Linked DNA regions of Homo sapiens: all the other regions are reported to be linked to region 2. The links are microRNA targets in miRTarBase. Many come from high-throughput screens and were not tested one by one. Region 2 holds a microRNA gene; each other region holds the end of a gene's coding sequence. Distances are between the middles of the regions.
Evidence for each region. Region 2 holds the annotated microRNA hsa-miR-3973 (ACAAAGUACAGCAUUAGCCUUAG, at 2,409-2,431, shown strand). A microRNA usually pairs through its seed, bases 2 to 8, with sites in the 3' UTR of a target mRNA and lowers its output. Matches are read on the target gene's strand: a 7mer-m8 pairs with bases 2 to 8, a 7mer-A1 pairs with bases 2 to 7 and ends in A, and an 8mer does both.

Region 1 (5,260 bases), not on the chromosome of region 2:
GATTCACAAGACATCAGCTGGGGTGGCTGAGGCTGGAGGATTCACTTCCAAGATGGTTTCTTCATGGACAGGTGTAATGCCCAAGTGCTCCTGGTCCTTTCTCTTTCTCCACATGGCAACTCATTCTCTAAGGCCTATCCATGTGGCTTCAGCTTCTCACAGTCTGCTGGTCTCAGAGTAGTTGTACTTCTTACATGGAAGCTCATTTCTAAGAGAAAAGATGGAGGAACTCCTAGCCAGTACTGCATGTGGAACTTGTACCACATTGCATTGCTTCCTCCACATTCACAGGTCAAGAGCTCACCCACATCCAAGAGGGTGGAGAAATAGACCCCCCCATTAATGGGGGAGCAACAGAGGCACATTGCAGAAGGGCACATGGAGTGGGAGATATTGCTGCAGCCACCTTTGGAAAATACAATATGCTATAAATGAGGAGGCCATTCTGGTAATTCAGACAAGGGATGATGGTGGTCTCATCTAGAGGTTTGCTCTGGAGATGAGAAAGGGGTAGATTCAGAATATATGAACAGAATATATGGAAACAGCAAAGCAGTAACAAATGCATCTGAGTATTTATTAATTGTAGTTTATAAGATTACATGGATGAATATTGCCCACCACCAATGGAGAAAGTCACAGCTATATCTAATCTATTTGTAGGACAAATGGATCATTGTCATGTTTCAGAATATGCTTTGTTTTAAAGCATCAGTTGTGTAGGGCAAGGAGTTAATGAGGCCTGGATAGGGCTATACAGTGAGGTTAAAGTATGGACCTGTAGACTCTGAGATCCAGGAATTGCTGTGTCCTCTAACCAAGGGTGCTTTAGAAAGTAAAGGGGGGGGAAGGGGTCTAGCCACAATACATTTTCAAACGCTTCATGGAAACAAGTGCATTTGATGACAGAAAGCCTTGAGCAGTTTTCAGTTCACACATGTGGTTACTTGAGGAGATAAAAGTTTTAAGGTATGAGAGCCAATGTACCGAAGTGGGTGTATGAGAAAGGGTTTTTGGGGTGACAAAAATGCTGAAAGCTATTTTCCTACTTTAACATGAGGGAGTGAAACAGAAACTTGCCCAGAGTCACCTAGTGAATTCATGGCAGAGCTGGTGCTAAAAGACATGATTCCATGGGATTCTTTCCACTGTATCACCTGCCATTCTGCCCAGAGCATAGCTTTGCTCTGTACTGTGGTCATACTGAACCACTGCTATTGCTCAACTGACTTTCAAGTAGTGCCAGAAGGCTGCAAGAAGAGGTTGTGAACAAACCAAGTCTGTTCCCTCTGTTGGAAAACATAACTCTAAAATATGCTTTGCTAATTTTGACTCAGTTGCATCTCTTTGTGGAGCAGACAACACATATGTTCATATGAAAAAATAGTCATAGTGAGACTACTTGCTGTGCTGCTCAATGTCCCATAGAGTATTTCTTAAAATTCGTGGAATGCCTAAGATTCTGAGATCACTCTCTCAGTTCTAAAATCTCTACCAAAAAATAGCTCAAGACCACCAGGATCTTTTGGATTGAAAAGCAAGAACAACCCAAGGTCTTTACTGTGCATGGGAAGGTACATATATATTATAATGAATATTTCTATATGTAACTTCTATTTCATATATGCAGATGCATAATTTTTGGTTTGTTTTCTCAATATTTAAAGTGGGCAGAGCTCCATTCTGGATGTAGGTAAAACTTACGTGTTCTAAATATCATAATTTTATTCTCCACTACTTTTAATTTCTTCAGGTTTTTCTATAGCTAAACAAAAGACATAATTTGCTTGTATTCATCTTCTTTATTAATTGAACACACTTATTGTAAATGGAATTGGCACTTTCAATCACCCTCATTATATTTACTAGGATGAAATTAATAACCCAAAGATTCAGTGTTTTCCCATACTAGGTTCTGTTTCACATTTGAGCTTATTTGGACAAATACTACTTCCCTGCACACTGAAAGGATCTGTAAAATATTGCTCCTTGATCTCTGCATAAGAAGCAATTTGTTGGACTCCAGTGTTGGAGAGCAATACTTCAGGGTTGATGCTTGGGAATGTGTAAATCTTGCCTATGGATTTAGATGTCTGTTCAACAAGATTGCACCACAAAAGCCTCACACCTTTATTATGTTTCACACGTTACATTGCACTGACAAGTTTAACTGCATCCACGACTGGGCCAGCTGATGTTTAAATTCTCAAATACCTTAACATTTGAATGTCTCAGGCAAGAAACCTGACTATTCAGAAGGCACAAGCTGTAATATTTCAGGCAAGTCAAAATCAGAAGTGAAGGCTTTTGGCCATAGATTTTACTAGTGCATTTATATTAACCTCTATGCATTTCCATAAGGCTTTAAAACCATTTCTTAGGCAGTATTTTTCTGTGGGTCTTCATTAAAGTATGGATCTTATTTAATCTACTTGGAAAAATCCCTTCAGGATCCCAGGAGCTGTCCTCCTCCATTCCTTTTAAAAGCACTTTCTCTTCTGCCTAAAAACTCAAGTACTCTCTTAACTAAGTGCGGACTGAAATATTTCACTATGGATTTGAACAGGAGCCAACAGTGATGATGAAAGGAAAACTTCTCCCTATAAAAGGTTTATTGTCAGCGCTTTCTAAAGATGAAGATGCTTCTGAAACAGACTACTGACATTTTCACAAACATTGACACAGCCTTCTCAACCTCTCCTAGACCTATGATTTGGGTCCCTTTCTTTTAGGAATGCTCTGGACCTTTGACCTTCTGAATAGCCAACTCTATATAACTGCTCCCTCCCCCATCAATATAACGTATATTATAAAAAGGAAAGGGGGATGGGGTAGCTTGGCCCTCACGCTATTGGAAAAGTAGTTGAAATTCCTTGCATTCCTTTGCATTTAACAGCATGTTTACCTAATCACCGGCTTATTAGGATTAACACAAGTCATGCTTCAAGCTCATTTAGTGAAAACAAACTGACTCCTATAGACTCAGATTTTTCCTCATAACAGCCAAGGGTAAATTTCTAAGTAGTTCTAATTTTTAGGAACGGTATTGGGAAAATATAAAGTTATAAACAAGCAAGTCTTTAGAATACATTAATTATATTCAATCTTGCCCATGGGTCTGGATGTGGGCAGCCTGAGTTATGGACTACCCCTTTTCATTAAAGGGTTTCTCTACTCTACTAAAGTGGCATGCCCACTAACCTGGTGATTAAAATAATAAATTATTATAGCCATCTCACAGAGTGATGGAGACCCTTAGGCTTTATATTCTGATGAACATGAAGCGCTGTTTTCTTAAATCACAAATTTAGCTTCAGAATCTTTATTGTGCTTCATACAATGTCGTGTTCAATACATGTTTTTTAAACATTACTTTATATGCAAAGACTTTTCTCTACTGAAGGTATAAAAGCAATCATTATCTTATTTTAATAGCTTAATTCACTGCTGTATCCCAATAAGTCCTGTTTGAATAATTGAGTACGTGAGCTAGGTTGTTCCTAATGACTTTGGAGCACCTCTAAAAATACCGAATGGCATACACTCAGATATTAGGTAAATATTTCTTTATTAAATGGTTAATTCCATAAATAAAATCTTTTCACTGAATATAAAATTAAAATCATTTACAAATTATTCCAGTATTACATTTCCCCTCCCTCCCCAAAAGCTACATTTTGATAAATAAAACATTCAGTCTTAAAACACCTGATTTCTGTTTGCAGTTTAGAGTGCAGATAGCTGCCTCTCACAGACACTCATGGAGTGTCCCCCTTCAGGAAGGGATGGAATGCCCTCCCATTTACTTTTGTCAAAGGACGAATAAAAGCTTTAAACTGTCCAACTAATCTTATTATCTCTTTTACGACTGTAGAACCCCAAAAGGAAAAAAGCCTAGAGAAAATATGCTTAGCAAATAATTTACAAACAGAAAACAGAAAGTCATCAACTCCACAAGCTCCAAAATGAAGCAGTAACATGTGCTCCAATACTATGAAGCAAAGTATTCTCCAATCGTGGCTGCATTAGTGTCCATCCGCACCAGCACCCTTGGCAGTTTCGAAATACCTTAATGCTCCTCAAGAATGAGCAAGGCTTCCTTTCTACAATGAGTCCCATCACCCACACCACCCCCGCCCATTTTCTCCATGATTCTGATTCTGACACTCTTCTCCCTTGTTTGTCTAGGTGTGCCCTGGAAACCCAGGTAGCATTTAGTCCCTAAATTTGTGAATGTCATTGAACAGCCTGTAGAAGGGAAACGCTGCTTCATTGGCATGCGGGCAGTTGTAGTTGCATTTGCAGGACTGGATCATCATGACGTTCTTGGAAAATGTCTCCCCATCTTCGCAGCGGAACCGCATCTTCACAGTCCTGGTCAGCTGGGGCGTGCAGCATCGGCCGTCCACGCAGGAACCGCAGTACTTGGGCCGGTATTTCTTCACACTCAAACATCCAGCGTAAGTAAACCTGACTGGTTCGGGGGATTTCTTGGTCTTGCTGCATTTCTTGCCCTTCTGTAAGAGAAAGGAGAGAAGGAAAGTTAGGGGTGATATTTCTCTTTCTTCAAAAAGATGTTCACATCCCACCCACCTGCCAGGCAACAGTCTACACGTCCCTGAAGGAACTTACTTTCAGGCTGCTGTACACTGGCTGTCCACAAGGCCGCACCTCACAAATCCGGGTTTCTTTCACAAGGCGGCACTCAGGGTTGTCATTGGTAACTCGTGTGGAGATACCAGTTCCACAGGTCTTTGAGCACTGGGACCATGAAGTTGTTTGAACAATACATTTCTGGCCTTGTAAAGGGTTGTATAGGATGCGAGGCTCCATTCCAAAAACTAGAGACATATAAGAGGGAAGACTTCTCAGAGGCATACCGACACAAACAGGCTCAAGCACTCATTTCTACAAAGATTTAGACCAGAAATGCATCTCAGTACAGTGTCTGAAGTGCTCAGTCTCCACTTACCAGGGAGCCGCTTCAGTGAGCTGCCTTTTCCAACTGCAATCAATTCATTGTTTCTCGTCAACTCCACCTCGGAGGCATCGAATCCCAGCTCCTTGCCAAGGAGGCCGTCCTGGTCCTCCATGGGGTCCTTGATACTATCCTCGTCACAGACCCACTCCTCGCAGCACTGCCCGGTAACTTTGACCAGCCGAGGGTTGGGACAGCCCAAGTTGGGGAGAGATAGTTCTTGGGGACACAGAGGAATGCAGCCCACGGCGCCATCAATACATGTGCACTGATGTTTACAGT
Region 2 (5,260 bases):
GTACAGTCCTCGTAAATTTTCTTTCTGAGGGGAAACTGGCAGGAGAATCCGACAGGCTGCAATGTAAGCTTGTAGTTCAGGTGCTGGGAAGCGGGTGTGAGATGGTTGGATTTTTCCATGGCTATGTTTTTGTGGCCAGATAAAAGAATTGAGTGAAGATGAAATAAAGTTTAGGCAGACCCAACCCTTGTAGAAATCCCAGACACTCAGTTTACTCCACGTGACCTCTGGTGGACTGTTCAGCCTACCTGAGTGGCCTCTTCTCCTTTGTGGAAGGGAGCAAATGAGTCTTTTGATTAAAGTTGTTATAAATATTAGATGCTTGTAAAGGCTCCGGCACATGGAGAATACCCAATAAATGGTAGTTATCATTAGGGCCATTTTTATGTGAGGAGGGCATATTATTTGTCATTTGTAAAGAACACTTGGGGACGCAAACCAGGCAGAATGGGTAAACAAATTGGGTAAAATCCTATATTTTTTCAAAAAGCCATTTGAATGTGCACCTGAGGCCTGAAAATGTGGATTAGATACAGATTGTGCTTTGATGAGAGTGCAGTTGTACCTCAAGGAAAGCCTCCTCCATCCCAACTCCAGGGTTCATGGAAGACGGTAGCATTCCTATTTGGTGTTGGGACCTCTTCAAGGCTTGAGAAAATATAAGGAGGAATTTAGAATCTGGGGAGAGGGATCCTTTCTCCCAGGAGTTTGTTGGGGTCAAGAAATGTAACTTTAAATGCTCCTATTGCAAGATTGGGTTTGTCGATACACAGGCAATTCTTTGGGTGTTCCAGTCCTATGGGGTGAGAAAGAATGAATATATATATTTTTTATCTGTCTCTGTATGTGCCTGTGTCAATTCCTAGTAAATATTTATGGGCTGGCAAGTTGCAACTGGGAAAGGCCCATGTTTAACTGGCTAAATATTAATAAGCATATTCAAGAGAACTGAGGTCTTTGTTTTGTCTTCTTAAGAAATGAATCCGCTCTTATTCACTGTGTATTCACAGGAAACTGTGCTGTTCAGGGAAGAAGTACTGCCTTGTTTTCCTTGTAGGCTTTCCAGCTTGGATTTCGATTTCCACTGAGGCCTTATTTTTAAAAACATGTTTTTACAGCAGCATTACAACTGTGGAGATTATAGCAGTCTCCTACAGCTTTGGTTATGAAAATAATATATATCGTCTTTTTATTCCCTTTAATTGACCATTCTCTTACCTTCCTTTGTCTCCACATGGAGACACGGCTAGATATCTCCCTCCTTTGTATTTTTTTCTCTCTTCTCCAACACTCTGAGATCAAGGCCCAAGTAAGTACACACCTTCACTTTTATCCTGGTTTCCTGGTATCCAGTGAAATGGATTTCATACTGCTGAAATGTCCATCCTTTCCCCAACTCATATCTGTGGCTACTTCTACCTTTCTCTTCCTGGAACTTTCCTGAAGAGTTAATTTCCTTATCTTGGCAGTGCTTCCCAGGAAACTCCCTTTTTTGCTCTGAGACAGACCTTTTAATAGTATTAAATCAAATGCTTCCAAACCATAGTTTAGACCCCCTGCTCTGGGAGCAGTCATCATAGGCAGGGCTTTGACGAACTCCCTTTGCAGGATCTGGTTGTCTATCCTGGTCACCTGGATTTACAAAAGGCTAAGAATAGCATTGGAGAAGACAGTCCTGTATTATTTTTCACTTACATACCTGAAAAATTAGTTTCTATCCGAATAGAAATGGATTTCCACCCAGCCAGAGGTTTATGCTGAAAGATGTAAAGTGGAATTGGGAAGATAAAATTAGACTCTTTAGGAAAGAATGGGTTTCCCACCTCCACTATAATCACTGTCATGCACCCTTATAAGTGGATTGGGTGTTGCTGAAATGCAAATGCCATTCGTTCTGTTGCTGATTTGCTTACCGAAAGTTGCAGAAATTCAATCCATGCAGAAAATTCTATGAGTCACTTCATTTCCTGCAACATTTTTTTTCCATTATTCATATTATGGAAAAGAGCACATCAAAAAGGCAGGTCTGCAAATAACACAGTTTTCAAAAAGATTGTTTTATTTTTCTTACGAAGAAGTTTTCCAGAAATCTGTAACCAGTATCAGGAATTCTCCAGCTTTGTATACATAGCCACTCATGATCGGATTCTACTCCTTGCTTTTATCTTGCTTGTTGTCTTTGGGGTTTTGAAGATTTGAAGGAAACTGGTCAGAATTATTGACAAAGTGCTCAGGCCTCAAAAAATACTATCAGAATAAGGGACTGAAGAGTATAACCTACTTTATTGTGTTTGTGTCTGGAGTATCTGAGTGTTAAAATTTGAAGCCCAGGGTAGCTCTCTGTATTGCTTGTTACATTTTAGGATTGCTTGCCCCTTGCTCCAATGGTGCAGGCAGAAGAAATGCAAACAAAGTACAGCATTAGCCTTAGCAAAACATATAACTAGGACAGTGGATCTGCTGCCAAAAATACCATCTGCTGTTTTCCAAAGCCAGAGATGGATGACTTGAGTTGTCTCTGCCTTCAGCAAATAGTCAAGAGACTAAATAGATTTATTTACTTTAAGTTTGCCCAGCCCTTCATAATATTTCTTATTAGAAGAAGAATATATTTTGGAATTAGTGAAGATAGACCCAACTCTTTGATTCCCAAATGGATGCCTAAAAATTTCCAATAGCTTCCAAATTGGATTTTCTTATTACTTTTCTTTCCCATCTCTTTCTACATAGGGCTGCCAGGTTAACCTACCTGAAGCATTACTCATCTCATGTCACTCCCTTGCTCAAAAACGGATGATGTTGGCTTCTCCTTGTGTATAAAGTTAAGTCCAAGTTCTATAGTCTGGCACTTAAAGCTTTTCCCACCCTTATATCCTCCTCTCCATGACCATTTGCTTTCATGCCTCCATTTAGCTCAGCGTTTCATTTGGAATAGAGGTCTGCATCATACCCAACCTGCAAAGCAGCCTGGGTGGAAATTATTCCATGCAGCATTCCATGATGCTTCCCCTGGAATAAATTTCCCCCTCCTTAGAAATTCTTTTTTTTTTGAAATGGAGTTTCGCTCTTGTTGCCTAGGCTGGAGTGTGATGGTGCGATCTTGGCTCACTGCAACCTCTGCTTCCGAGATTCAAGCAATTCTCCTGCCTCAGCCTCCTGAGTAGCTGGGATTGCAGGCATGCACCACCAAGCCTGGCTGATTTTGTATTTTTAGTAGAGGTGGGGTTTCTCCATGTTGGTCAGGCTGGTCTCGAACTCCTAACCTCAGGTGATCTGCCTGCCTTGGCCTCCCAAAGTGCTGCAATTACAGGCGTGAGCCACCGCACCCAGCCCCTCTTAGTAATTCTTACATTCCATTTCTTACTTTCTTCTGTGGCATTTATGACTTCCAACTTTTATAATTATAAAATAATTTTAATTTTATAGCTCTTTAGGTGCACACTTCTTCTCTCCTGCTCAATAGTAGGTTTTTGATGTGCTCAAGTCTTGTATTCCCTGCAACCTTGAGTATAGTAGGTGTCTAATGCTTTCTTTTTGGGTAAATGAATGAATCAGTTAGTTGAATGAGTGCTTACTACAAAACAGAGCATGCGATAGGCAGCGGGTATCTATTAAATATAAATATCTTGTTCCATGGCCCCAATCAGTGAAAAATGTCATTGTTGAGGAGGTCACTGGCTAGGAATTTTAGAAGTGAGAACACAGTGGTCATTGCTGTAGTCTAGATTTGGGTGGTCCTTCAACACTTCAGATGTATAATTAATTTGGGATTTGTGTATCAAAAGTTCTGCTACCTCAATAATACTGATATTATAACCTTTGAAAGGGTGGAGAGAGAACCATAAGCAATTGTAACTTATGTATTCTTCATCAACAGGTCTATTCTGCTATTTTGGGGACATAGCAGAGGTCAGTTGGAAAGAGATTTAGCGAGCCAGTTAGAGCCTGATTTGCATGCTAGTTCTCATTACCTGGCTTGTCATCTTGAACCTCAATTTCCTCATCTGGAAAATGGGTATAAGTAGCTACCCGATGCAGTGTGGATTAAATGACAAACAGAAAGCACCAGTGCAGGCTCTAACACATAGTGGGTGCTCCACGAATGCAGGCATCACGTCTAAGGGAAGTCTGAGTGGCGGCCTGTCACCAGCATCATGACTGTTTGACTTCATAGTCTAACTGCATGACTGTGGGGAAGAAGGCAGGTACGGTCATAGAAGTTTGCTATTTTCTTCGAAAGTGATTTCTTACTATTGATTTTAATCAGTTTAGATTGTTGTTCTTCTATATTCTAAAGTCTCTAGGGGTTAGGAATTCTGATTAATATATTCTATAGTAGTCTCCCCTTATCTTCGGGGGGTACATTTCAAGACCCCCAGTGGATGCCTGAAACCGAATATAGTACCAAATTGCTGTCAACTGAAACCTATTTCTGTCCATGTGTTCCACCTACAAATTTAATGCCTTTCCATCCTAACTAAGCACTTATCACACACTCTGGCTATAACTTTTGCAGTTTGAGGTGTGACAGCAAAACTAGCACAAATTCTTTTTCCTTCTTCACAATTTCACAGATAGAAAATTTTTTCTCACTGTACATCTTAGCAACCTCAGCATAAGTTTTTTTTCCTTTCCTTACTAAGTCGAGAACTTTCACCTTTTCACTTAAAGGAAGCACTTTACAGCTTCTCTTTGGCATACCTGAATTACCAGCATCACTCTTCTTGTGCTTTGGGGCCATTATTAAATAAAATTGGTTACTGAAACACAAACATTGCAAGACAGAGGCAGTTGATCTGATAACTGAGACCGTTCTTAAGTGACTAATAGGCAGATAGTGTAGACAGTGTGTGTATGCTGGACAAAGGGAAGATTCATATCCTGGGCAGGACAGAGCAGGACGACACGAGATTTCATCACACCGCTCAGAATTGGACCACAATTCAGAACTTATGAATGGTTTATTTTTGGAATTTTCCATTAATATTTTCAGAAGTCCATTGACTGAGGGTAACTGAAACTGCAAAAAACGAAACTGCAGAAAAGGGAGGACTATTGTATTTCAAGATGTGAACTTCTGGGAATTTTAAAACTGGAAAAAAGCTGGATGGAAAAGTTGAAAAGAAAAAAGTCAGATGTTTGGGAGCAGAGGTTGGAAATTTATGCAGTTTCAATTCTATTTCCATTATACTTCTAAAGTTACCGTTAATTTTGAAATATAAAAAATGTCCATTTTGTATAAATCAGCTTGCCCAAAGGT
Region 3 (5,260 bases), not on the chromosome of region 2:
TCTTTAACCAAAACACTGAACAAGTGAAATCCTTAGCTTGGCATACAAGATCCTCCCTGATTTATTCTCCGCTGACCTCTCCAGCTTCGTTTCTTACCAGGACCTCACCTGTACCCTCTCATCCAGACTGTGGGCACTGGGAGGCAGGTCTCATTTCTGCCTCCCCTCAACATCTGGCATGCGGGAAGTTCAAGGGTGAGTGGATGGGGAAGGACAGTTGGATTAATGTATGGAGGTGTGTTCACAAAGCTCTAAAACCCAGGAGAGCCTCTCTGCCAGCACAAATGAGTCAGGTGTCATACTTCTGTGCTCTAGCAGCCAACCTGAAGACTATTTTTGAAATGGAGTATCTCCCACCAGAAATGCATTGTGCAAAACTCTGCTCAAAGGCATCAGTCATGTAGGGCCTTCCATCTTGTTGATTCAAGAGAATGCCTACCTACCCACTCTGCTCCCACCTCCCCAGTGTCATCCTCTCTTCCCCTTGCAGAATGACTGGTCTCACCTTGTCCCACACTGCCTGCTCCCATCTCCCTGCTTTCTTTCCTATTTTTCATGGCCTCAAATGAGAACTTTCTCCTGTGCATCCAAATCAGATCATGTCTCTTGCCACTGCTGGTGTTACAGTAATCCTCCCTTATCCATGGGGCAAACGTTCTTAGACCCCCAGTGGATGCCTGAAACCGCAAACCCTATCTACACCAAGTTTGTTGCTATATATACATAATTAAAGTTCATAATTTAGGGAGTAAGATATTAATAATTATACTGTAGTAGGCTGCATGAACTCTTTTCCTCTGAATACGTACATGTATTCACATTCTTGATGGGAGATAAAATGCCTATGTGGAAGGGAGAGGGAGGTAAATGACGTAGGCATGGTGACGTGTTAGGCTACTATTGACCTTCTGATGACACTTCAAGAGGATCATCACTTTTGGGTGATCCCAGACCATTTAGCCATGATAATTTTCCAGACTGCAGTTGACCGACAGCAACTGAAACTAGATAGGTGGGGACTGCTGTATGTCTCCTGGAAGCCTTCCAAGACCCAGCCTCCCTGCACTGATCTTCTTGGCTCTCAATTTCTATCACGTCACAGTCATACACTATCTGCTACTTCACAGAAAGGAACAGAAGCCAGATCATGGGATCGTCATTAACTACCTCAGAGCTTTCAAGACAGAACAGCTTCTTTATCCCCAACTTGCAGAACAGGGACACAGCAGGTGGTCAGTAAATTGGGAATTTGGCTAGCCATCTAACACTTGTTCAATAAACCCATGGCAACTGGCACCCTGCTGGCAGTCATGAGTTTTATATACCATTATATGCACAGTGCAAAGTAGCTTAATACTGGAGTGCCTGAAAAAATGCAGTGTTTTGGAGTCAGATGACTGCATTCCAATCCCATCCCCACCACTTCATGGGTGAGACACTGGTAAGATGCTTAACTGCTCTACACCCTTTCCAGCGTGGGTCCAGGAAGACATGCTTCTTGGAGTTAACATGCAGATTAGGCCGGGCACGGTGGCTCACACCTGTAATCCCAGCACTTTGGGAGGCCAAGGCAGGCGGATCACAAGGTCAGGAGATCGAGACCATCCTGGCTAACATGGTGAAACCCCATCTCTACTAAAAATACAAAAAATTACCCGGGCATGGTGGCGGGCACCTGTAGTCCCAGCTACTTGGGAGGCTGAGGCAGGAGAATGGCGTGAACCCGTGAGGCAGAGCTTGCAGTGAGCCAAGATTCTGCCACTGCACTCCAGCCTGGGTGACAGTGAGACTCCATCTCAAAAAAAATATGTGTGTATGTGTGTGCGCGCGCAGATTAATGGAGATCGTTGTTCAGAGTTTAGGACAGCACCTGTTTCGGCTCCATGAGAGCACCATGTAAGATGCTGTCTTTAAGGGCAGCCTAAAATAAGCAACTTGCCAGGGAAGAAAGGAAGAGTGCAGAGTTGAAAGCTGCCTGATTACATAGGCACATCCAGCTACAAACAGAACTCATGGTTGTGGTGCTAGGAAAAGCTAAAAAGCAGCACCCCAAATATTCACTGCAGGTACCTTCCCAGAACCACCTCTAGCTGAGTTTCTCATCACTCTTCAAAGATCCCTGCTCTCTCTAAGCCACAGCTTCCCATCAGTGACAAGCTGAAGGAAGGGATGTGCTCCCTCAATATTGATTCAGCTTAGTAAAGTCAAGTTTGCATTTTATGGAGGCTCTTCCAAAGCCTGCTGACAGCACAGGGTAGCCTGGTTACTGTGAGGGCCTACAATGTGCTGAATCTGTCCACAGTTTGAGTTCCCACAAGTCCCTGCTTCCTGACAAACAATTGCTTAGCACTAGTTTCCAAACTGTTTTCACAGTTGTTACATCCTCAGCCTCAAAATAGCCTTGTGAGCCAGGGTAGCTAGCAGATACCCTTGGGAGCCCAATTTAAAAGACAAATTAACCCTAACAAGGTACCAGGTGACTTCCCCAAAAAACACTTGGATGGACTAGATGGAAGAGAAGCAGGCAGCAGGGACAGAAGACCAGAGGGCAGGTAGAGGAGGGTGTTAGCTGGCCGTAGGAGCAAAGGCTGTGGAGACCAGAGAATACCTGTCCCAACAGATGCAGCCAGCCTGGAGCCCTGCCAATTGTTATCAAACAGGAAGGTGGGCTACTACTGCTGCTTCTGGTATTTCAAGAGGCTGGAAATCCAGACCTTTACGTAAAATTTGCCAAGTTTCCAAATGTTATGCCTAACAAGGCTCACAGCAAGACTGCCACATTTTCTATAATATCACAACCCAAGTGGATCCTCTGGAAAAATAGGCCAAGCCTGAGTTTCATCCCACCTCCCTTCCCAAGGCTACTGGCTGAAAGACTACAACTTCTGCCCTGAGCACAGCTGAACAGAAAAGCCTCCCCACTTCGTGACTTTGATGCCAACCTTCAATCATTCAGGCTCTCTGCAGCTATGCCCTTTTTCTTCACATCAGAAACTATTTCCTACCCTTCAGTTCTCAATTGCTTCCTTCCACTCTCCCTGCATCAACTTAGCAACCACCCCCAGCTCCACGTCCTGTCCCATCCCATCCCATCCCATCCCTGCAGCACTGTCAGGATCCTCACCACCTTGCCTCTGCAAGCTGCTCACAGGGTGCCTTCTCTGCTTCCACACTCCAGCTCAGTCACAGGAAACTGCATCTCAAACCCCAACCTTTGCTGCCCCTAGCATTACCTTCAGCCTGGTATGCACTGTTCATCAAAAAATGTCAAATCACATCAAAGACCCCATTCTTCCACACGTTCTGTACTAGTAAGCCATTTCCTGGTCCTAGCAAAGTAGTAGCAGATTCCTTAGCAAGAGAACCTACAGGGCCAGAGGCCCCACAAACCGAAGTACACAGCCTCTGTAGATATGAAAACAGAACTCCAACCACCCCCTGGCCAGCAGGCCCAGCCCCATGACTTAACTCTTCTCAGCCCTGCCCTCCTGTCTGTAGGTGCTCCATGCAGGGGCTGTGACCATCTTTTCTCCAAAACATTCCACTACCCTTCCTTCCTGCAACCTCAACCCTTCTGCCTTCACGGTATTGCTTTTCCTGAGTCCCCTTCATGCCCAACCAAGTCTTTCAGCTCTCTACTGCTTCCTGAGATTTCTCCAGTTTATCCAGACATGGTACTTTTTAGACTCTAAGCCAGACGTGGTCGCTCATGCCAGTACTTTATGTGGCCAAGGTAGGAGGATCGCTTGAGCCCGAGTTCAATCAAGACCAGCCTAGGTAACAAAGCTAGACCCTGTCTCGAAAAAAAAAACACCTCACTGTAGCCTCGAGCTCCTGGGCTTAAGTGTAATCATCCCACCCAAACCTCCCAAAAGTGCTGATGACTGTGAGCCACTACACTGCGTCCACCGCGGACATGGTTCTTAACACAGCATTTACAAGCTTGACTCCCAGATGAACCCACCTAAGCTATAAACCAAGCAGCAAACAAACACCACCCCATGACATTAAGTTTTCACTGAATGCTTCATGGAGCATGTGAACTTGGACAGCAACTGAAATCAGCAGACTAACCTCCTAGCAGTCCCAGGAAACTGCAAATACATTTCAAACAACCAGACACATGAAGTTTTTAGTTTATTAATGTTCTTGCGAAAAATCCACAGTGGCCACAGCTAACATCATTGCAGCACCTTTACTCCTTCGGCTGTGAATCAAGAGAAAGAAGTTTAGTCAACAACTGCCTTTAAAATTCTTTAAAGTCTTCAATTCCAAAAGTAGTAACACTCATGCACAACAATTATTAGTAACCTAGAATATCAAGTTATTTTGATGTTATCATAACACAATGAAAGCATCAAGAAATAAAATTTACAAACATTCAAGTTAAGAATAAAACAAAAATAATGGGCTAAATATTGCTAAACCTTAAAAACAAAACCATGTCACTGTTAGTATTTTAAAAGGTTACAACTCTTCAGAATATTTGTAAATCTACTTCTAGATGTACTACACATGATCTGCTTTTAAATTGCTACGTCAGTACACCAAGGAGTCTAGTGATCTACATGACTACATGAAAAGCTTGAATTATACCTGTGATCCAATCTCCAGCTCACTGAATCAGTGGCGGGGAAGGGAAAAAGAGAAAGGAGGGAAAAGAAAGATTTCATTAATAGTCCCTTTTCAAACTCCAAAATAATCTGCATTTAAGTGCATGCAATCAGGTACCTTAAAGATGACCATTTTGTTCTTTGCAATTGTATACAGAGCACTCCTTCCAGACTCACTGATTTTATTCCTCCCAATTCTGACAATGCCTTGCCTGATTACTGTAGTTCTTATGCAAACGAGGTAGCCGGACTTCACAATGAAGAGATCATTAAGCCAATGTGGTACCCAGGATGGCCTTGCCCACTTGTCAATGAAGTACATACCTGAGCCTCTGCCCCTCTGCTCTGCCCAGCAACATTGTGCTGGACACACACCAGGAACAGTTACGAGAATCATTACAGATTCAAGTCTAATTTAACCTCAATGGGAGTGCTCTAAATGATCAGGCAAGTCTTTTAAAAGCTGCCTCAGTTCAATAAAAGATACCATTCACAGCCACAAAAGTAGTACAAGTTAGTATTTAAAAAGAGGCATTAATTTAGCTGAACTAAAAATACAATTGCTCCTCAGATATGAGACTACTAATGCCTTAGTATAAGTAACTTAGTATATAACTCCATCGCAACCAAAAAGCAAGAACAAATAC
Region 4 (5,260 bases), not on the chromosome of region 2:
ACGAACTGTTCTTTTGGGAGCAGTTTAATTCCCCTAAGCCCACCAGTAAATATTCTTGAAAGTTGAATGAGTTTCAAAATTGCGATTGGTAAATGGAGGATTTTAAATAAATCACTTACTTACTACTTAAATTCATATGTTAAAATCTAAACGAAAATCTAGTGAGAAATAGTTTTTCCCCCCTAAGTTTCTCTTTTCTAATTGAAAAGGCTGTGTTTATGTATCTTAATTTTTAACTGAAAGAAACACAGCCAAAACTGTTTTGTTTTTCCTCTTTACTCCTAAACATGAGCTTTGAAGAGCCTTTAAGAAGGCAGGTTTAGTGACTATTTATCAGTGTTCTGAATATTCTTTTCTAATAAAGGATGCATCGAACTTTTTTTTTTTTTTTGAGACGGAGTTTTGCTCTGTTGCCCAGGCTGGAGTACAGTGGCGTGATCTCGGCTCACTACAACCTCCACCTCCTGGGTTCAAGCGATTCTCCTGCCTCAGCCTCCTGAGTAGCTGGGATTACAGGCACCCACCATCATGCCCGGCTAATTTTTGTATTTTTGTAGAGACAGAGTTTCACCATGTTGGCCAGGCTAGTCTTGAACTCCTGACCTCAGGTGATCTGCCCGCCTTGGCCTCCCAAAGTGCTGGGATTGCAGGCGCGAGCCACCATGCCCAGCCCATCTAACTTTTAAAATAGAAAATATGTAGAAGTTTTAAATAGGTTGACTGACCTCACTGCTTTATATGTATCAATTTTCTACTGTTACCTCAGGGAATGTGCTTGGAATTAGGAGTGGCAATGACATTTTATGTTATTTCTCTAAATCATGCCTTTATCTAAAATTATTTTTCTTTTCCTCCTTTCACTCCCAACAGTGCTAGTTGCCGCAGACCAATCAAAGGGGCTGCAGGCCGGCCATTAGAACTCAGTGATTTCAGGATGGAGGAGTCTTTTTCATCTAAATATGTTCCTAAGTATGTTCCCTTGGCAGATGTCAAGTCAGAAAAGACAAAAAAGGGACGCTCCATTCCCGTATGGATAAAAATTTTGCTGTTTGTTGTTGTGGCAGTTTTTTTGTTTTTGGTCTATCAAGCTATGGAAACCAACCAAGTAAATCCCTTCTCTAATTTTCTTCATGTTGACCCTAGAAAATCCAACTGAATGGTATCTCTTTGGCACGTTCAACTTGGTCTCCTATTTTCAATAACTGTTGAAAAACATTTGTGTACACTTGTTGACTCCAAGAACTAAAAATAATGTGATTTCGCCTCAATAAATGTAGTATTTCATTGAAAAGCAAACAAAATATATATAAATGGACTTCATTAAAATGTTTTTGAACTTTGGACTAGTAGGAGATCACTTTGTGCCATATGAATAATCTTTTTTAGCTCTGGAACTTTTTGTAGGCTTTATTTTTTTAATGTGGGCATCTTATTTCATTTTTGAAAAAATGTATATGTTTTTTGTGTATTTGGGAAACGAAGGGTGAAACATGGTAGTATAATGTGAAGCTACACATTTAAATACTTAGAATTCTTACAGAAAAGATTTTAAGAATTATTCTCTGCTGAATAAAAACTGCAAATATGTGAAACATAATGAAATTCAGTAAGAGGAAAAGTAACTTGGTTGTACTTTTTGTAACTGCAACAAAGTTTGATGGTGTTTATGAGGAAAAGTACAGCAATAATCTCTTCTGTAACCTTTATTAATAGTAATGTTGTTGTAGCCCTATCATACTCACTTTTTAAGACACAGTATCATGAAAGTCCTATTTCAGTAAGACCCATTTACATACAGTAGATTTTTAGCAGAGATCTTTTAGTGTAACATACATATTTTAGAGAATTGTTGGCTAGCTGTACATGTTTTGAAAAGCTGTTTAGCTAGCTATAAGGCTATAATTGGAAATTTGTATTTTTTATTTACAGCAAAACATTTATTCAGTCATCCAGTTTGCTACCAAAATATGTTTTAGATAAGTGTGTGTATGTTTGTTTAGAAGTTAGAAATTGTAAACACTGGTCTTATGTTTCATTTGGATTCATTATTGCATTGTCTTGTTACCAGAAACAAATTTTGCCGAGCTTTTTTTGCCCTATATTTCCCAGCATAATTTGATTAGAAAGTACAAAAAGGGCCAGGCGCGGTGGCTTACGCCTGTAATCCCAGCACTTTGGGAGGCCAGGGCGGGTGGATCACGAGGTCAAGAGATCAAGACCATCCTGGCCAACATGGTGAAACCCCGTCTCTACTAAAAATACAAAAAAATTAGCTGGGCGTGATGATGTGCGCCTGTAGTCCTGTCTACTAGGGAGACTGAGGCAGGAGAATCGTTTGAACCCAGGAGGCAGAGGTTGCAGTGAGCAGAGATTACGTCACTGCACTGTAGCCTGGCGACAGAGCAAGACTCCATCTCAAAAAAAATAAAAAAGTACAAAAAGTACTTGCTTTTATATTACATCATAAGCAGTAGTTAATAAAGTTGTATACTCTTAAGAGGTGGGCATTATGATTATTTTTTATTTTTTTATTTTTTATGAGATGGAGTCTCACTCTTGTCACCCAGACTGTAGTGCAGTGGCACGATCTGGGCTCGATGCAACCTCTGCCTCCCAGGTTCAAGCAATTTTCCTGCCTCGGCAGAGACGGGGTTTCACCATGTTGGCCAGGCTGGTCTCGAACCCCTGACCTCAAGTGATCAGCCCACCTCAGCTTCCCAAAGTGCTGGGATTACAGGTGTGATCCACTGCACCCGGCCGGCATTATGATTTTGTGTACTCTTGAAATGGTTATCTTTGTGGATGATTTTTTTTTTTAAGCTGAAACTTACCTCATGAATAACTTGATTAAAGTAGTAGGTGATTAAAATTTCAATAGAATCAAATGAGACAAAAATTTTAAACTGACTCATTTGAGTTTCAACTTTACAGTCATTGACCATAAAGCACACTAAAAATGTAAGTTATTTTTAAATACATCTGAAATAAAAATACTTACTAAAAAGGAAGAAGCCGAAGATGTATATTTAGACCAGCACACAATTTTGATTTCAATTAGCCTTATTCTAATATTTAGCTTTTAGATCTTTCATACACATTTTCACGTACTTTGCAATTGAGACCAGAAAGACTTGTAGGTCTTTCTGCAGAATGAGTGGGTCCTTGCAAAGTGAGTGGGAAACTTACTCCTAGATCAGAAATGTTTGCCTCTCTGAGTAAAATGTTTCTTTCAGATGAGCCATAGAGGGGGCACCTTTTACTCAACTTTTCTTTGTTTTGAAACTTTGTTTCCCATACTGTTTTCAGCCTTTTGTTTATAATTAGAAATTGTGAGAAGCTTCATTTAGTGTTTAAAAATGTGGGGAGATAAATCAGACTTAACATGTATGTAAGATCAATTCACTTAAAAGTATGGTCCAAATAGCAAAAATAGGACCAGGTGAAACATGTAGTCATTTTTTAAAAACATGTACTTGGTCTTTTGTGTGTGTCTGTTTTATTCCATTAGAATAAATGTGTCCTTGATGTAAATGCAAAGCATTTCTTCCTGATTAAATTGTAGATGTAGACTTTACAATATAATTCAATAATAAAAAGTAATTAACCTCTAGTTTTGTCGTTGCAATAAATGGTTTTCAGATAGCACAAACTGTGATTTCTGGATAACATTTCTTATGTGATATTTATGGATTATTGTGTTTTATTTCAGTCTGTTCATATGTTTTACTTCTTATTGTAATCGGGTTCTCGTTTATTCAAAGGTAAGCAATGTGTAGCTACTGTACTCACAGAATGACATTAAGCGCTCCAAGGCACCTCTCCCACACCTAGTTCCTTTTTCCCACCACTTTTACTGTCTTTAGTATTTACCTATGACCCTTATGATTGTTAGTCTTGCTTTGAGACTAAGCCCGTGTCACTGTGATACGTCATGGAGCTGTGCTCACAAGATGAAAGTGCCATTATGTCTTCCTCATTCATGTGTCCCCAGAGGTGATTTGACTTAAATTAGTGTTTCTCAAGGTAGTATAGACACCATAATTAATTATAAGGCAAATCGCATCAAAGGCTTAAAACAACAAGTTTTATTGCATGCTTACCATGTGCTAGGTACTTTTCTATGTGCTTAATATGTATTGATTCACTCAATCCTCACGATAATCCTATGGAGTAGGCATTTTCGTAATATCATTACAAATGAGGAAACTGATGGTTAGAGGTGTTAGGAAGCTTCTTCATGTTTGCACACAGCTGAGAAGTGATGGCTCTGGTTGCATATAATATGGCAGAGGGAACCTAAAACAAACAATTCTCTGTTTACATGCTTTAAACCAGTTCTGTGTTCAGCCCTGCTCCTTTCACAACTTTGGTGGTGCCTTCTGAGTTTCAAACCTCTGAAGCGTTCTTTTGGGTAAAGTAGCTCACTCCTAGTTTTTCTTGTTTTTGTTTTTGTTTTCTTTGAGACAAGGTCTCACTTAATCTTTCTCTGTGGCTATTTAAATCTTCTGGCCAGGTATGGTGGCTCACACCTACAATTCTAGAACTTTGGGAGGCCGAGGCAGGCAGATCACCTGAGGTCAGGAGTTCAAGAGCAGCCTGGCCAACATGGCAAGACAATTTTTAGTCTCTACTAAAAATACAAAAATTAGCCAGGTGTGGTGGTGGGTGCCTGCAATCCCAGCTACTCGGTAGGCTGAGGCAGAAGAATGACCCGAACCTGGGAGGCAGAGGTAACACTCCAGCCTGGGTGACAGAGTGAGACTCCATTTCAAAACAACAACAGTAATAATAAATTTAAGCCTTATTTAATTTTGCTAATTTTTCTGTTTCTTAATCTTTTTTTTTTTTTTTTTTTTTTGACAGAGTCTTGCTCTGTCGCCCAGGCTGGAGTGCAGTGGCGCCATCTTGGCTCACTGCAACCTCTGCCTCCAGGGTTCAAGTGATTCTCCTGTCTCAGCTTCCCGAGTAGCTGGTACTACAGGTGCGCCGCCATGCCCAGCTAATTTTTGTATTTTTAGTAGAGACGGGGTTTCGCCATGTTGGGCAGGCTGGTCTTGAACTCCTGACCTCAAGTGATCCTCCCAAAGTGCTGGGATTACAGGCGTGAGCCACCACCCCTGGCCTAATTTGTTTTTGTTTGTTTTTTTTTTATCTTCCAGGCAGCTTTTTGAAGTATCTTTTGCTATCTCACTCTACCTCTTTGTCATTGTGTTAAACCCTTTTTTATTCCCTTATCAGTATTCAAGTCTCAGTAGAAATA
Region 5 (5,260 bases), not on the chromosome of region 2:
AAGAGCGTGGCGGAGAGCATGCTGGACGTGGCCCTGTTCATGTCCAACGCCATGCGGCTGAAGGCGGTGCTGGAGCAGGGACCATCCTCTCACTACTACACCACCCTGGTCACCCTCATCAGCCTCTCTCTGCTCCTGCAGGTGGTCATCGGTGTCCTGCTCGTGGTCATTGGTGAGGAGCCCAGCCTGCAGTCAGACCTTCTGCCTCGGCACCCGTGGCTGGCAGAAAGGCCCCACGTGTCCCCTGGGCCACCCTGCATTGGCACAGGCAGCTTTGCAACCACACGCTGACCTGCAGTGAGCCCTCCGCTAACAGAGGCCCAAAGACCAACTTCCACCCCGCGAGGGCAGGCGCCCTGTCCTGTCTCCTGGTATCCCATGGAGCAGACCCTCCGCAGTACCTGCTGAATGACTGCGCCAGCACCTCGCTAACTGCTAACTCACTCACTCGCTCACCGCTTCTCCATGAGCACTCGTCCCCACGCTTACAGGACCCAGCTTAAGTTCCCAAATCCTGGTGGGATGAAGCACACTAGGGTGCCCCATTGTACTGGTTGGCGAGGGCAGAGGCATCTCAGCCCGATGACGACCACCTCCCTTGATTTCTGCCACATGGGTTTCTGAAGGGCCCCTCTCTCCAAACTCTGGTGGGTGTTGTGGGGGCAGCTCCGTGCTGTGGCCCCGTCTCTGACCCTTTCCCCCCACTCCACTTCCCTGCAGCACGGCTGAACCTGAATGAGGTAGAAAAGCAGTGGCGACTCAACCAGCTCAACAACGCAGCCACCATCTTGGTCTTCTTCACTGTGGTCATCAATGTTTTCATTACAGCCTTCGGGGCACATAAAACAGGGTTCCTGGCTGCCAGGGCCTCAAGGAATCCTCTCTGAATGCAGCCTGGGACCCAGGTGAGGGAGGATGGAGGAACCCCAGCTCCAGGGACTCCCCAGGTGGCCCTTCTCTCTCCTCTGGGGCTTTGGGGCAAGAAACAGATCCCTTGCCAAACAAAGGGGGAAGGCCTGTAGCTCCGAGAGCAAGGAGAGGATCTGCAAGAGCCTGGCCTCAGCGAGGCTTGCACAAAGCCCCACTGCTGTGTTAATGGCTCTCTGCTCTCAGGCTCAGGTTTTCCCACGGTCTGGGACAGGGTGGAGGCGATGCCATTAGTGGTTGACTCTGCCCCTCCGGCAAGAGGAAAGGTGGAGATGGGGAATTTCTCCCTGCCATTGTCTAGCAGCTCTTGCTACTGACTGTGGTCCATGGGTCAGCAGCATCCACAAACCACCCAGGAACTTGCTGGAAATGCAGAATCTCAGGCTCTGCTCGAGCACGTGCTACAGGCACGTGCATGAGTAACGTGGCCAGGTGCATCCTGGGCATGCTGAAGGTTGAGGGGCATTGATCTGGCCTGCCATCCTCATTGCCTCTTCTCTGCTTCCTCAACAGGTTCTGGGCCTGGAACTTCTGCCTCCTTCCTCCGTGATCTGCCAGGCTCGTGGGCACTTTCCACAGCCCAGGAGAGCTTCTGAAAGGACAGTATAGCTGCCCTTGCTCCCTACCCACAGCACCTGAGTTAAAAAGTGATTTTTATGTTATTGGTCTAAGGGACTTCCATCTTGGTCTGAAGTCCTGAGCTCAGACGCAGGTACTGCCAGCCATACCTTCCTGGTAGCATCTGCTGGACCTAAGTAAGGCATGTCTGTCTAAGGCCAAGTCTGCCCGGCTTAAGGATGCTGGTTCTGACTCTACCCCACTGCTTCCTTCTGCTCCAGGCCTCAATTTTCCCTTCTTGTAAAATGGAATCTATATCTATAAAGGTTTCTTCAAATCCACTCTTGAGTCCACTTACTTGTCTAGTCCTGCAGGCTCAGGCATCCAGGCTGGTCTCCATCTGTGCCTTGGAGAGGGCTCAAGAGAGCAAACCCCAGACCTGGAGGGTGGGAAGGCTTTTAAATTACTTCCTCCTCTGTGGGTTCTGCTCGGAGCCAATGTTCCTGGCCCAGATGTCTTGCGCTTATCGTCATCTGCCCCATGAACTGTAGATTAGTCCATTGCAGGTGGATGCACATATGCACAATCTTCTCCACGAACCTGCTGTAAGCTATTCTGGCTTTCAGTCTCAGCTTCCCTTAGGCATGTGTTTAAGGACTGCAAACTCATTTTGATCTTTGCCTGGGCCAAATATAACGAGGAAGGTAAATCTGTAAAGCATTAGCAAAGCATTGCCAACTCAGAAACAGAAATGATTTTTAGAAGGTCTGCCAGTTTAGAAGCAGCCACTCGTTGGCTTCTCTCCACTGCTCACCAAACCGTTCTGGCCCTATATCTAGCCTTCTCCACCCAGCGTATCCATAGCTTTCCTCGGCTAAAACCACCAACCTCCATTAATCTGCTGAACAGAAAATGCCTAGTCTATTACACGGTGAGCTGCTCAGACAGGAACAATGTTGTCTTCTTCCTGAGTAAACCGCAGTGCAGAGAAGGCCATCTCACACACAGCAGGCATCACACTTGTGGTAAGGGTGGAGGGTGGTGTGGGAGGGTCCTTGGCACGCCCACCTGGGCCCCTCAGCCCAATCCTTTACATCCGTGAAGAGCAACAGGAAAAGACAAGCACCTTTTTTTTTTTCTAAGAAGTTGCTGTATTTAATGCTTCCCCTCCCACCATCCCACACCCTCTCCTACCCAAGACATTTCTCTAGGGAGTAGGGGCCTTGCCCGGCCCTTCCTCTTAAGGCAGATGGTGTGGAGGTAACATCAAACGCAAGGCACTGGCCCAGGGCGCAGGGGTGTGGGCAGGGCAGGAGGCTGGGCTGGCTCCTAGTCATTGGAAGTGAAGCAGGTGGGCAGTTTGGGCTGGTTCCAGCCTTCCAGTGCAATGCCCGAGGACGAGAGTGGTCCCAGAAAGAAACTGGCAGCCCCACTGGCCAACTGCAGCCCTAGCCTATGCCCCACCATCCTTCTCCAGGGGCCAGTCGGCCTCAGCAGGGACCAGAAAAAGCCACAGCCCAGGGAGCAGGTATGGCCTTCCTAAGCCACAATCTCAAAAGTCTCTGTCCTTCATGATTCCTTAAAGGGAGGCAGGGATTCTCCCCGACCCCCCAGAAGGTTCTCCACGGGCTCCATTCTCCCATGTGCCAAACTCGTGCTCTCGGGGAATGCAGAGCCCACTAGGCAGACCCTGCAGCTCCAGTGCCGTGGTTTGGACCGTCACAGCCTGGAGCGCGGGCTCAGTGGCCTGGTCTTCTGGGCCCCGCCGCACCTCCCCCAGCCCTGTGCTCACCTCCCTAAACAGACTCTGGAGTTCAAGATCCAGTGTCCAATGCACCATGGGTGAATTCACAGCAGTGGTGGAGGCAGCAGCAGCAACAGAAAAACCCCCAGCCACAAAAGCACCGGGGTTATTAGTGCAAGAGAAGTACAAGGTCTCCAGGTGACAGAAAGGGTGGCATCGACTAAAAAGGCTAAGGGCTATTTTCCCTGAAACTGCCCCCCTCTTCAGTTCCTCCTGCCCCCACTCCTCTCCCTGCCTCCAGGGGATATCTCAGGGCAATGTCCTCACCTCCCCAAACCTCTCATCCCGCCCCCTTCTTATCCTGCTCCCTGTCCAGGGTTTTGCCCCCGTACACCCTTTCCTCTTCTTCCACTCAAGGCCGGGTGGCCAGGGCTCTCCCTGCAGAAGGGCAGGTCTGCAGTGGAGCTGGACTGTGAGGCTCACAGCTTCCACTTCCCTTTTCGTCCCTTTCTGTCCAGCCCCCACCCGCTTCTTGCCTAAGGAAATTGACAGATATGTCCACATCCTCTTTACCTCTTCTCCATGTCCTCTCGGGAGGCCTTACCCACAGGCACGCCGGTAAGGGAAAGGGCTTCTCTCCCCTGCCTTCATCACCCTGCCTGTTCTGCAGGCCTCAATGTCCAGTGCCAGGGAGTGGCAAGCCCCCTGCCCGCCAGCTCCCCACCTCCCAATGCCCAAGCACCAGAAACAGCCCGTTCTGTGCTTCTGGTCTGACGTGAGCCATCCGGAGGAAGTTAATGCCCTAATCAGTGGCCAGCTGTTTGGTGGCTACTGGGAGATGTGTGTCTCTGGAAGGCACGAGCCTGGGGTGGAGCAGAGACCTGCCCCACGTGGGACCAGTCCCGCGGCCAGGGACAACGCCCAAGGGACATAGGAGTGGGCGGGAGGCCTGCACGTGGGGACAGTCCCTCAGTGCACAACCTCACCCCCGCTCTGGACAGCAGTTTCGGTTTTCTGTTTTTAAAATCCCCGCCCCCCAATAAAATATGTCCACTAGAAGAGGGTCTGGTGGTCAGCGCTTGGCGTGAGGAGCGCTTGGGGGATGTGGGCGTGCACCTTCATGGATGAGGATGGTGTCGCTCAGTCAGATCTCTCCTTCCTGACCCGTCCTTCTCAGGAGCTCTTCCCGTTCTCGACTGAGCAAGTGGTCCCTCCTGGCCTCTCTCTCAAAGTCCTCCCTTCTGAAGGCCCAGGAGGCAGAGACAGGAGCCCCGGAACCTGCCTCTGTGAGGGGACAGCTCCAGGTGGAGTGGGCCGTCAGCTTCGAGGCCTCTTGGGGTCCAGCCGTCACCCCACTCCCCATCCCTGAACAGTAGCAGGGCCCTGGGGAGCCACTGCTAGTCCAGAGCGGGGAGTGCTGGGCCCCGCGGACACCCTCCGGCTACAGCGTCTTCATCTGGCGACGGCTCCACATGCCTCGCTTGGAATGGAAATGATGGAAGAAATTCCTGAGGGAGAGACGCTCCACGTCCAGGCCCGCTTGGAGTATCCTGGAGGAGGAGAAACACAGATGAGCCAACAGAAGCACAGAAGGCAGCTGGGGGGCCCCTCCCCATCGACCACAGACCCTCTGTTCGCTCCCCACGGGGCAGGGAAGGCAGGTGCAGTGGACGGCTGTGGGCTTTGAAGCCAGGCAGCCTGGGTTTGGATCCCAGCTGCATGACTGGGTATGTCACGCCTTCTTTCAGAGCCTGTCTGCTCATCTCTAGGAGGACGATTATCACATACGTGTAATGAGAGGATAATGTGTGATATAGAATTCTATCTATCTAATATTAGAGTAGACATACTATATACACATCAGAGGTGGGGAAGACGAGAAGGATGGATGCTGAGGGCTCAGCACGGCTCCTGGCACACTCTGAGTGCCCCATAACTGGCGCCCAGCCTCCAGGGCACACGTCATAGACGGAGGAAGGCAGGGCTGCTGCACTGAGACACCTGGCGCCTAGGCCCTCCCCAGGCCTTTTG
Region 6 (5,260 bases), 2.7 Mb from region 2:
CTAGCAGCAGTAATAGCAGTGTTTATATTATAATAATATGTAGTAATAAATACTAAAATGTTAATACTAATATATATGGAATTGATATTTTTCTCTCCTCTAGTTATTCTTAGTATAAGTTAGTTCTGAGAGATCCACTATGAGTTATCAATCACAAAGGGTATATTGTAATTTCCCTTTCTTTCTTTCCTTTTATCTTTTAAGGTATGTTATTCAGTCATTTTTTTTTTTTCTTTGTGGATAGGTTCAGCACTTTGGATCTGGGCATCAAGAGTGGAATGGAAACTTTGGGCACAGAAGACAGCAAGCTTATATTCCTACTAGTGTTACCAGTAATCCATTCACTCTTTCTCATGGAAGTCCCAATCACACAGCAGTGCATGCCCACCTGGCTGGAAATACACACCTCGGAGGACAGCCTACTCTACTTCCATACCCATCATCAGCCACCCTCAGTAGTGCTGCACCAGTGGCCCACCTGTTAGCCTCTCCGTGTACCTCAAGACCTATGTTACAGCATCCAACTTATAATATCTCCCATCCCAGTGGCATAGTTCACCAAGTCCCAGTGGGCTTAAATCCCCGTCTGTTACCATCCCCAACCATTCATCAGACTCAGTACAAACCAATCTTCCCACCACATTCTTACATTGCAGCATCACCTGCATATACTGGATTTCCACTGAGTCCAACAAAACTCAGCCAGTATCCATATATGTGAAAAACAGTATATTGGGGAAGCTCAATGATACAAACATTTGATTAAAAATAAAAACATGGTATTTAATATTAGCCATGGCACAAGAAAATTATTTTTGAATCATGTAGACTTGGGTGCAATTTAAACAACTTTGAGCTTTAAAAACTCACTTTTGATGTGTTTTGCACATTTGGTATAACTTGTCTTTGGTCATGTTATCTTCTTATGTAGTAACTCTAGACAGGTGACTTATGGGAGCAGAAGTCCAGTTTTGCTCCTGCTATTTTTTATAAATTGCCTTCTAACTAGTGCAAGACACGTCTACATTTGGGAAGCCATTCTGTGTACAGACTTAGAGCAACAGATGCACATATGTCAGAATTACAGCATACAAGTGAATTGTATTATCCGTGTCTTAGTGTATAAATGTTGGGTCACTTACCTAAGAAATTGAGCTATTGTTCTTTACATTTGCATGTGTCTTTTGCATGGGCAAAATGTTGCCTAGACTTTGCTCTTAAATGTTGTTCTAATAATCTCAGCTGCATTGTAAACCGTTCCTACACATAGTGCCTTAAATATTTGAGGTTGTTAATGTTATTACCTATATATAAATGTTGAGGACTGCAGCACTTAAAATTCAGACCTACTATTTAGTTTCCTTTTGATAGCGTAATGTTCATTTTTGTTTTTGTGTGGTATGATTTCAGGTAGTAGCTGTTTTTTTCCTTATTAAGAGGGCAGCATGTTTGCTATAGCTGAATTCTGCTGTCTGATTTTTCAGAATGATCTAGCTTCAAGAAAAGCAAGCAGTTAGTAGTGCTTAAGAAAAATTGATTCAGTATCTAATGGATAGTTGATAACTGTCACAGCACAGCATTTTATATACTGTTAAGTGAAACTGCAATACAATCTAAGTTTATTTTGAGAGTGTTTGCTGTATAATTGGACTTAATAAAATGTTTAGAGGTACAGTAGGCATGACTTTGGGTAGATAATAAAATGCAAAATGCTCATTGATTCATGATGTGGTTTTATCTTAGCTTGGGCAAACCATGCAGTATTTAATAAATAGTAGCAGAACTTTTACTATTGAAGCTTGAAAAGATGTGAGTTCTTTGTGTGCAATTTTTGATTTATGCATGTGAGAGGGTTTTTTTTTTTTTTAAGTATTTTTACATTGCAGTACTTGTTTTGCTTGTTGGTGATGTTTGCTTATTTAATACATTCCGTCAGGGACAGAAATTACATGCTTTTTTTTCTTTCTAGGAAGTGTGTTGAGTTCCCCCCTTCCCCGACATTTTTTTCTTTTTTGGGTGGTGGTGATGGTAGTGGTTATGTCTGTTTAAATGAAGTTGCTTTTACAGCACCAAAGACTTAATCATCCATTTCCTATATAAAGGTAGCTACTTTTTGCATAGACCTCAAGTATATTGTAGTGTAAAGGTGGAATTTAAGGAAAGGTATTAAATTGAGGCTGTGTTTTAGCTTACAGGCAAGTAATAAATTGTATCATTTATCTTGAATGTATCATAGATAAGCTGCTATATAACGATTGCCACTTCAGATAGCTGTGAAATTAGGTGATTAACTAGTTGTTATTTAGCCTTCTAATTTCTGTATAAGTCTAATTACATGAATAGAAATTGGGGTTTTGATTTTTTACTTTGCTTTTCTGTTTGGAGTGTCATTGTAACTACTGTATTGTAAATGGTGGAAAATAATTGCATTTGTTACTTTGGGGTGTGTTATTTGCATCAGTATTTTATCTCTATTAATGTTTGTGCTCATCACTGCATATTAAAAAAACTTGGATGTATCAGTGTAACTTAATTTTTTATTTTCATACTGGCATTGTAGACACTTGAGAAAGCTGTATCTTGCAGGCTTGACTTAACTTTTTTCCTTAAAAATCTGGAATATAATCTTACAGCATTTACTGGAATAAACAGTACAAAGCATTGGAGTGTAAAACTCTAGATGTTTTGGATTTACAGCGTTTCTTTGATAAATGAATTGTATACCACTAGTACAGCTCTAGTACAGCGTTCACAATAAGCTAATAATGGATAAGTTTTCTTCACTCCATTAACACAAGCAGTGTTTTATTTAATAATCATCAATGAAATAAATGTGCCTGAAATTGATTTTAAAAATTACAGTATTAGATCATAAAGTAAAAACCAGCAGTACATTTTTAGTCACACTGAAAATGAAGGACTTAATTTTCCCCACAAGTTTCAGTGTTTTTAGTAATTAATTCTATGCATTTTATACAAATAGAAATATATATATATAAAAAATTAAATGTTTAAAAAGGAGTAGCCTAAGATTAATTTAAAAGATTATTTACAGATGACACATTTATGGGGTCACTATTTAAGTAAATTTGCTGCCCTCCACAGCCTTCTAATTTTATTTATATGTTCCAGCAGATTATTAGGATCTGCTTACTTCTTAGGAAAGAATCAATGCTGGCAACACATTGTTTCAGAAACACCAAGTGCAAAGGATTGATTGTATCACAACAGGTACAAAACTGACAGAGTTTTCTTTTTGTTTAGGGCCATGTTTACTACCCTGAAATGTTGTATTTTTTGTCTTTAATTTCCAAGACTTAAAGCAGTCTTGTTAAATTGACATAAATGGTAAACTTCAACATTTTCATAATACAGTATTAATGTTTGATAAAGGTATATCCCAGTTAACTACACTGCTCTTTAATTGCAATCATGGGCATTTTAATGTATTTTAAAATAAATTTCAAAATTCTGCTAAATTCTTAATTTAGCATATTGACAAAGTAATCTGGATTTATACCTTTTAAAAACCATTTTGACCAGTTTTCTTCGGTTTTAATGCTTTCTTAAATAAAACACTGCATGATTTCCAAGTTGCATATTTGCATACTATTTTAATTTGCAAAATGTTTTTTAAATCAAATATCCTGATATTTAGTTGTTTTTTTTTTCCTCCAGCGTGTTTAATTAAATATGTTACTGTATTAGCAAAACATTTTCATTTTTAAAATCTGCTAATTTTAAACTTGGACTGTGTTAAGTAAAAGTTAAATCATACACTGCAAGGTGTAGGAAGATTTGTTTTAATGAATCCAATGATACAGATTTGATTACTAAGTTTGAACTGTTAATTGTTTAACAATTTTAGACTTGTGGCTTTCTTTCTTTGGTTTATTTGTTTTTGCTTTTACTCCTATGCTACACTAGTTTGCCATGTAGCAATTGCACTGTGCAATATTACAATAAGGACTGGGAAAATTTTATGGATGTAATGTCTATTACGGTTTGCGATAGTATTTCTCTCTAGTTCTCAGTGATTTAAATGTGACCAAGCCTTCTGTACTTTGTCACAAAAAGCGGGTTTTCCAGGTGACTATTTTGGTGAGTGTCAAAATAAGAATTTATGGTGTATTACTGTCGATTCACTTTGAATTAAAATATATATATTGCAGCAAACAGCTTGTTGACTTTTTTTCCACCCCAATACTCCTTACAGGGTAGGGAAGGGAGAGGTTAACAATATTGAGTATCTATTAATAACTTACATCATCTTATTTAACTCTCAAAGCCACCTTGTGAGATAGGTATTATTATCTTTGTTACACAAATGAGGGCATAGCTGCAGAATGTTTAGGGAACTTGCACAAAGTCACATTGTCAATGAGTTGGAATCTGAGATACACACCAGGATATCAAACCATAACTAATCTACTTTCTATCAGTTCTTTTAAAACCGAAGTCTGAGGCAGTGTACCCGGACTACCTGCAACCATAAGATGACCCTGTCCCATTTTCCTTCAATATTAAGTTTCCGCAAATATTTTTTGAGAGAAATAATTTCTGTTCAATATGTGTGGATGAATAGGGAATTCACATGTATCTTTAATACTTAAAACATATGACTTCGAAAGAATGTGATTGTAGTAGGCCAGCTTACATCCTAAAATACCAACACCTCATAATTCAAGGATCTAACTTTCAAGGAACCTCAGTTGGAAAGTTTCTAGGGGAGCACTCCCCCAGAACACAATAGTGAGAATACGTATTTTCAATTTCTGCCTTCCCCTATCAATGTTTAATTGAAGTATAACATATATGCATTCTTTGGCATCTGGCTATTTTTTGTTAAACATTTATAAGATACATCCATGTTGTGTGTAGTTCATTTATACTCATTGCTGTATAGTAATCCTTTGTGTGTATACAGAACTATTTTGTTGATGGACATTTGACATCTGAATAGTTTCTACCTCCTGGCTATTATGAATAGGGCTGCCATGAATGTTTTGTCCATATCTCTTGGTGAACATATGCATGCATTTCCTTTGGGTATATATGTAGACGTGCATTACTAGGACATAGGGTGTATACAGATACTGCCAAACACTATTCCAAAGTAGTTAATGTACACTTATTAGCAATGTATGAGAGTTCTAGTTGCTTTATGTCCTCACTAACACATTATTTTTTGTTTCTTTTGTTTTAGTCATTCTTTTGAGGGTGAGTTTTTCAAAATAACATGAACATTTTCATTTAGGTC

Region 1: miRTarBase lists CCN1 as a target of hsa-miR-3973. Seed matches in the 3' UTR shown: 7mer-m8 at 4,000-4,006.
Region 3: the mRNA of RPS24 is a reported target of hsa-miR-3973. The part of its 3' UTR that is shown has no 7-base or 8-base seed match.
Region 4: miRTarBase lists TMPO as a target of hsa-miR-3973. Seed matches in the 3' UTR shown: 7mer-m8 at 3,106-3,112.
Region 5: the mRNA of B4GALNT3 is a reported target of hsa-miR-3973. Seed matches in the 3' UTR shown: 7mer-A1 at 4,456-4,462.
Region 6: the mRNA of HIPK3 is a reported target of hsa-miR-3973. Seed matches in the 3' UTR shown: 7mer-A1 at 849-855, 7mer-m8 at 2,364-2,370, 7mer-m8 at 2,435-2,441, 7mer-m8 at 4,061-4,067 and 7mer-A1 at 4,145-4,151.

The regions. Positions count from the first base shown.
Region 1 is chr1:85,581,997-85,587,256 of GRCh38, reverse strand. CCN1 (cellular communication network factor 1) reads right to left here. Exons shown (of 5, transcript NM_001554.5): 3 at 4,973-5,260; 4 at 4,633-4,841; 5 at 3,307-4,517. The coding sequence ends at 4,215. Among named protein-coding and RNA genes, the nearest start is that of CCN1, 3.9 kb to the right of the region's middle. RefSeq lists an enhancer at 4,838-5,260.
Region 2 is chr11:36,007,773-36,013,032 of GRCh38, forward strand. MIR3973 (microRNA 3973) reads left to right here and starts at 2,326; the gene lies at 2,326-2,432. The region is part of intron 1 of LDLRAD3 (low density lipoprotein receptor class A domain containing 3); the gene reads left to right.
Region 3 is chr10:78,039,562-78,044,821 of GRCh38, reverse strand. RPS24 (ribosomal protein S24) reads right to left here. Exons shown (of 6, transcript NM_033022.4): 5 at 4,597-4,618; 6 at 4,125-4,207. The coding sequence ends at 4,616. Among named protein-coding and RNA genes, the nearest start is that of RPS24, 8.3 kb to the right of the region's middle. RefSeq lists enhancers at 2,082-2,191, 3,472-3,521, 3,590-4,091, 4,412-4,921, 4,922-5,260.
Region 4 is chr12:98,546,703-98,551,962 of GRCh38, forward strand. It overlaps TMPO (thymopoietin), which reads left to right. Exons shown (of 9, transcript NM_001032283.3): 9 at 871-3,649. The coding sequence ends at 1,156. Among named protein-coding and RNA genes, the nearest start is that of TMPO-AS1, 33 kb to the left of the region's middle.
Region 5 is chr12:560,862-566,121 of GRCh38, reverse strand. It overlaps B4GALNT3 (beta-1,4-N-acetyl-galactosaminyltransferase 3), which reads right to left. Exons shown (of 20, transcript NM_173593.4): 20 at 2,613-4,779. The coding sequence ends at 4,671. NINJ2 (ninjurin 2) reads left to right here. Exons shown (of 4, transcript NM_016533.6): 2 at 1-172; 3 at 721-905; 4 at 1,441-1,826. The coding sequence ends at 887. Among named protein-coding and RNA genes, the nearest start is that of NINJ2-AS1, 67 kb to the left of the region's middle. RefSeq lists enhancers at 1-205, 206-707, 2,872-3,373.
Region 6 is chr11:33,352,848-33,358,107 of GRCh38, forward strand. HIPK3 (homeodomain interacting protein kinase 3) reads left to right here. Exons shown (of 17, transcript NM_005734.5): 17 at 245-4,176. The coding sequence ends at 721. Among named protein-coding and RNA genes, the nearest start is that of KIAA1549L, 21 kb to the right of the region's middle.